2 linked regions of the Homo sapiens genome follow. The protein of the gene in region 1 purifies or fractionates together with the protein of each later gene. This does not show direct contact. Each region holds a gene or a part of one and is shown on either strand. Other genes may lie near its edges.

Region 1 (2,775 bases):
TCATCACAGTTCTACAATGCCAGTAATGCAGTGACTCTTCTAGCAAAGTAACTTACTTTGTGACAGATAACTTTGATAAATGAAAATGTAACAGTCATGGTGTTCATGTACTTTCTCTATGGTTGGAAAACTATACACTAACCCCTGGCCTGAAAGGAAAGAGTGCTCTGAAGACCAGGGATTTCTGGCATTGGAAGCGAATGCTATTCCCACGCAGAATAAATTAGGAGCTGAGGTGTACTGGCTGGTGACACTCAGATTCTAGTGTGGCAGTACTAGCTTCAACTCTCTAAATAAATTTCAAGGCTTTGTGAAAATAACCTCTCTTCTCATTCAAGGGTATGTTTACTGGTTCCATTCAACAAATATTTACTGAGCACTTCCTAACTGTAAAAGGATAGTGTTTGCATCTAGAGGACTAGAGACATGCCTGCACATCCCTCACCTTCAAAGGTGAACTCTACACAGGATTCTTGTCCTAGTCATTGTGGCAACCCCATCTGACACCTTGTGTAGTACCTAGCTTTATAGCAGGCATTAGAAATGGATTGGAACCTAACCAGAGATGGTCTGTATGCTCAGTGGAGTTCCTGGCTCTTAATTGTTTTAAGAAAATTCATTTTTTCCACACAGTTTTTTTTTTGATACATATATTTATTATGCTGTAAAAAGCAACACTACCTGATTGCATTTAAAATAAATGTTTCCCAATTTCAGAATACTTACAACTTGTAGTTTTAAGATTAGATTCACTTTGGGAGGTTTTAGAAGCAAATACATTCATAGCTGTGTAATCCCCAGGAAGAATCTAAATCTGACATCAGGTCATTCAGTCCCTGCCAGACAGACAACAGCATCAAATGGTCAACAGCTAATCCAGCTCTGCAGCTAAAGGGCAGTGTCGGGCAGCAGTGGGGTATAGCATATTACCAAAGATGAGACCAGCAAAAACAACAATGTGTATAAAGCTTTAAATTAACATGATCATATAGAGCGCTCAGGATACAGAAAAAGCACATATGATACTAAAGCCAAAACAAAAAGATCTTTGGAGTTTACTGACGGCAGCAGTTAATAGCACAGTCAACAGCATTTAAATCAAATATATTATTACCAGCCAACAGCAAACAGCCCGAGCAGGAATCGGCACATAGTCATAAATAACATCAGGGGTAAATAACGGCACATTTAATTAAACAACAAAGATTTTACAGAATGGTTTTGATCTGAAAAAAGATGAAAACTCTCTTTGTTCCCAAATAATGGTTAGAACCTCTTTTTATTATAGAAAAGCCTCAAAATCATTGGTAATCTTCAAGTCACACAATTCAACTGTCTTGTTTCATTTTAGTCACACAAAGCGGGCTGCTCTTTGAATAAAGTTATCTTGATTGATTTCAGTTAAAACGTGTCTACCCTGTAATATCTTTGGGGATAATGCTGCTCCTGTGCAGCATCTTACAAATGCTACCTGTCTCCATGGCTTGCTAGATCCACGGGGTAGGAAACTGCTCACTCAGCATCCTCCCCATGGAAGCTCAAGCATGGGAACAGCTTCGGGCCTGGTGCAGCTAAGGAACATTGGCCGTGGTTTCACCAAAGGAGGTGCCATCTAGGTAATGGGAGGGCAGTGGCAGGAGCCACTGGCTTAGACTGGAAGTGAAAATGAAAGCACCTGGAGGCTGCTGGAGTAAGGTGCCATCAGGCATGTAAAGTTTAGAAGCAGCAGAGTGTGCTCATAGAAAAAGAAAAAAAAAGGAATTTGCTGTATGTGATAACAACTAACATTCATGTACTTGAGCTCATTTCACTAAACACAGCTTCAGAGAAGTCCATTTGTGTGCATGTGTGTGTGTGCTTAATATCAGAACTCCTCACTAACATGCCACTTTATCTCGAGGTATGACAGGATAAAATGTATGTGTAACTCCTAGAAAATCCTGTTCTATCCGTTTTTTGAAGCCCCTTTTACCCACTTTCCAAATGAATCCTGAATTACCAACCCAAGACAAAGAATTATAGGTCACAATTTAAAATGAAATGGCCTTTTTCTTATTATTAAACTACAGAGCCCACCAAGAATTACACAATAGAAAAATCACAAGAAATCTGGAATGATCCAGTGGTCCCCCAAGGAGGACAAATCTCTTGATGCAGACTCTTAATGACAGGCTTGGAAACAAATGTTTGTTAGTTGTAGCAGTTCCCATACTTTCAGAATAACTTTGGTAGCTTAGAGCATTTCTGAATTTATCTTTACCCTAGAAGCTAAAAAAAAAAAACTTCTTAAAGAGCTGCAGTTGCACATCCCTTCGTTTTTTAGACTGATAAACTTGACTAATTTATACTTAGTAATTTTGTCTCTGGTTCGTCTTCTGTAGACAAATGGCAAAGTTCTGATGCCAGAAATAGGAGGCATTTTCTGACTTACTATGGAAAACATAAAAACTGCATAGTATGCCAGCTCTCACTTTCCCAGCTAAAGGAAAGAGGCAGATAGCTAAATGTCTGAGAAGAGAGGCTGGACTAAGGGGATATAGAAAAAGGAAAATTTTTCAAAAGCATTATAACTACATTCACACATACGTTTTGGTCACCAAACATATCTTAAACAGATTCCCTGATAAAGTCTAATCAGAATTGGTCTATCTTACTAACAGTTGTTAACTATTATAGTTTTTTAAGAGTCACATCATGAAGCTAGGGGGTGAGAGAGACATTTTAAACACACAACCGTAAGTGCATATAGTTGTTCAAACACTTAAACTAAATTTG
Region 2 (3,659 bases), on another chromosome or scaffold:
TGCCCAGGACCACTGTCTAGGCTCAAGATAGACTTGAGTCATCAGCATGCATCAACACATATGTGAAGCCCCCCAGTAGTTAAGGAATCAAAGAATGTTTGTAGAGGGGAAGAAGTCTTAAGTACTGAGCCCAAGGAGAACATTAGTTTTTAAGAGGCAGCAGAATGGTAAGCTGAAAGGCCTGGTTATTATTGTCAAGGGCCACAGAGAGATCAAGTCAGATAGGAATCAGTTGGATTTTATAAGGGGTTATTAGTGACTTTGAGAAGATTAAGACTAGAGAGGCAAATATTTTTGTATTCTATGGCAAAGGAGATGCAGTCAAAGTAGAGACTGGGGAAAAGGCTGAAAAAAGTCTGCAAGAAGAAAAATCAATACTTTTCATTGAGTGATTACTGGATGTCACATACAGATCTAGGCAAGCCCAACACCCTGGAGTCATCTTCAGTTTCTCTTATCCCACATGTTCACCCATTAGCAAGTCTCTCTGCTTCTAATATGTTCCAACTTAATCGTATTTCTTTTCATCACCTCTGTGGCTAACATCCTTTTCTAGCCTAGACTTAATGTAATAGTTTCCTAAGAAGTCTCCGTTTCCAGTCTTGATTTGATAATGTATTTACCATACTGCAGCCAGAATGACATTAAAAAAAAGTAAATTGGACCATGTTCCCCTTACTAACAGTGAACTTTCCATGGCTTTCCATCAAACGTAAGGTCCAAATTCCTTATAACTGCCTGCAAGCTACAAAGTGAGGCCCTTAAAGTAGCATCTTACAGCTTCTTTGCTCTCTTGATTTGAGCCTTACTTTCTGTTGATTGACTGTAACCCCATGTGAGTTGAGGAGCATCTGTATATGTTGCTTTCTGAGAGTCACACTACTAGGTTAAAGCAAAGTCAATGATACATGTGGCTCTTGAAATAATTTTACCATTTAAGAAAACTACCAAATCCCTAGAGTTTGTAGGCAGTTGGCAGAAAATAAAAGTGTTCCTGCACTTGTCTTTGATCTCCCTAATTGTGTAATCTCTTACATCATTATTTTTCCAGCTACCACACCTATATGTTGTGACTGCACAAGTTAAAAAAGTTTCAATCTCTAATGTTAACTCTTGGTAGTTGACATAGCCATCTATTAGATTGTATCTGGGCTTTGAACAGAATATTTAGTTGGGTTTTATTAGAGTTGTGTGCTATTGTTAGAGGCTAGGAGAGGGCCAGGTACACTTGATTGTGTATGTATTGATTGTCTTAACCTCCCTGAGTGCTAGATTTAACTTCTGGTCTTTTTTTATTGCACAGCTTAACATTTTCTAGGAATCTCAAATTCTATATGGTGTTTGAATCTTCTTCAAATTAGTAGGAGGAAATCTGTAATGGTCAATGTGTAACAATTAAACTCTTCAGAATATATGAGCTGATAATAATGATCATTTATTAAGTTCTATAGACCAGGAACTAAAAGCTTTACGGTACAGAGATGCTACATTAGATTGCCTACTTTTGGGAGGAGGGGCAAGAGAAGTGGGGGAGATATTGATCCTTTTATAAGGAAAAACTCCAATATTATATCCGTGTTATCTTTCCTCCAAATAGCTTCTGACAATAAGTTACTTGATTAAAAATTATGTTTTAATTAGAATTTGATGGCTTCTTACAAACTTTTACTGACGCTCCACATGTTTGTTTTTGTAGGAGCTGACTAAGGCTTTGGAACAGAAACCAGATGATGCACAGTATTATTGTCAAAGAGCTTATTGTCACATTCTTCTTGGGAATTACTGTGGTAACGTTTCTTATAAAGTATATTGCCCCCTTTTAATAAGTTACTTATACATTTTACCCATGACAAATTAAAAGTTGTCTTTGAGAATTTTTAAATTGGTCTTTTATACAAGGTAAAGTAGCTCAAATGTGACAGACATGTTGAGCAACACCCATTTAAATTTTATGGATGTCGCTTTTTCCTTCATTGGGTGGAGAATGTATACAGATTTCATTCATAGTTATTGGGTATGCTGATAAAAAATAGCATCACATTTACTATTTGACAGACTATTAAAATGAAATGCTCGTTTAAATTTTTTTTATAAAAAAGAATGTGGCCAGGCATGGTGGCTCACGCCTGTAATCCCAACACTTTGGGAGACCAAAGCAGGAGGATCATTTGAGCCCAGGAGTTCAAGACCAGCCTGGGCAACATAACAAGACCACCTGTATTTAAAAAGTAATGTATTTCTGTATTTTGTACCTTCTGAATAGGGAAAAACTGAATACCTTGAGTAAAATTACATAGAAAATGTTAATGAGACAAGGAGGTGAATTTTGTGACACAGCTGTATTCATTGAAGAGCTTTAAGAAGGAAGCTAAATGTTAAGCCAAAAGGAAGGTACAAGAGTAATATTTATTTGAATTCTATCTTGTATTAGCTTTTCCTAATTTAAAACCATTTGGCATTTCTACCAACTTGAAAACTTAGAAATCTAAAACTGATTCATATGTTGTGTGTATTTGCTAGGATCTATAAATAACTGACTAAAAACCCGTCTTTTTCTACACAGTTGCTGTTGCTGATGCAAAGAAGTCTCTAGAACTCAATCCAAATAATTCCACTGCTATGCTGAGAAAAGGGTATGCAGTAGCTACTCTTCTTGTTGAGCTTGGTATAGATAGTAGGTATTTAATTTGTTGAATGAGTTCATTGCAAGCTTTATATAAGTTGTAAAATTCTGTATTTATACATTATATAGCAGAGATATGATTCAATTTTAAATACAACTTATAGTTCTATTATTTTGTTAACCAAAGTATGTGATAGGAGATCTGTACTTAGTAAATTTTAAAATAGTGATGATTGAAGTATTTGCAAGGTATAGATGAAACTGATAGATTTCACATTGCTTTTTTTTTTTTTTTTTTCAATCTTTTGGAATTTACTATATTTAATTGACTGGACAACATCCTATTCAGCAAAGCTGAATAGGCTACATTTAATGCTATGAAAGCGCTATATCTGTATACTTTATATCCCATCTTGTTTCTGTTGATAAGTATAACTATTCTTTAAGAAACTTCTTTAATTCCTTTGTATAATTATATTTTTGAGTAAGCAAGTCTGTACAATTAAAGTCAGATTCCTTCTGAAGTGAGTTCTAAAATTGAATTTTAGTAGGAATTGTACTAGATCTTAACAGTATATTAGAAAGTCTCTAGGTTTATTAACATACACTTAAAATAAATTTTTTCTTTCAACAGTAGAAAATACTAAGTTTTTTATTTAGAAAGAAGGTATTTTCCAGATTTTTTGTGTGTCTTAATTTGTTTTAAATATATTCATGCAGAATATGTGAATACCATGAAAAAAACTATGCTGCTGCCCTAGAAACTTTTACAGAAGGACAAAAATTAGATAGTAAGTATTAAAAATTATACTTTAATAAACTTATCTATTTCTGTCTTAAATACCAAAGCTGAATTTTGGTAATGTTAATTTCAAGTTAATTGTAGAAACCCAATACCTGTTTTTCTCATCTAAATTATATTTCATATTGATTGCAGATATGAGATCACTTAAAATCGATTAAATTAGCCTTTTGGCATTTAAATCATAGATGAACTTCACCATTAGAAGTAAAAAAAACTATGGAAACACCTAAC

Evidence for each region. Proteins that work in one complex are often made in the same cells at the same time.
Region 2: the proteins of GLS (region 1) and SUGT1 fractionate together in Homo sapiens (co-fractionation; one large-scale study listed by BioGRID). This does not show direct contact.

Annotation. Positions count from the first base shown.
Region 1 is NC_000002.12:190,963,411-190,966,185, reverse strand, and holds the end of GLS (glutaminase kidney isoform, mitochondrial isoform 1 precursor), read right to left. Parts: 3' UTR 634-2,775; downstream 1-633. UniProt on the Homo sapiens protein: Catalyzes the first reaction in the primary pathway for the renal catabolism of glutamine. Plays a role in maintaining acid-base homeostasis. Regulates the levels of the neurotransmitter glutamate, the main excitatory neurotransmitter in the brain.
Region 2 is NC_000013.11:52,655,836-52,659,494, forward strand, and holds part of SUGT1 (protein SGT1 homolog), read left to right. Parts: intron 1-1,696; coding exon 1,697-1,787; intron 1,788-2,263; exon of another isoform or gene 2,264-2,372; coding exon of another isoform or gene 2,373-2,391; intron 2,392-2,563; coding exon 2,564-2,633; intron 2,634-3,343; coding exon 3,344-3,414; intron 3,415-3,659. UniProt on the Homo sapiens protein: May play a role in ubiquitination and subsequent proteasomal degradation of target proteins.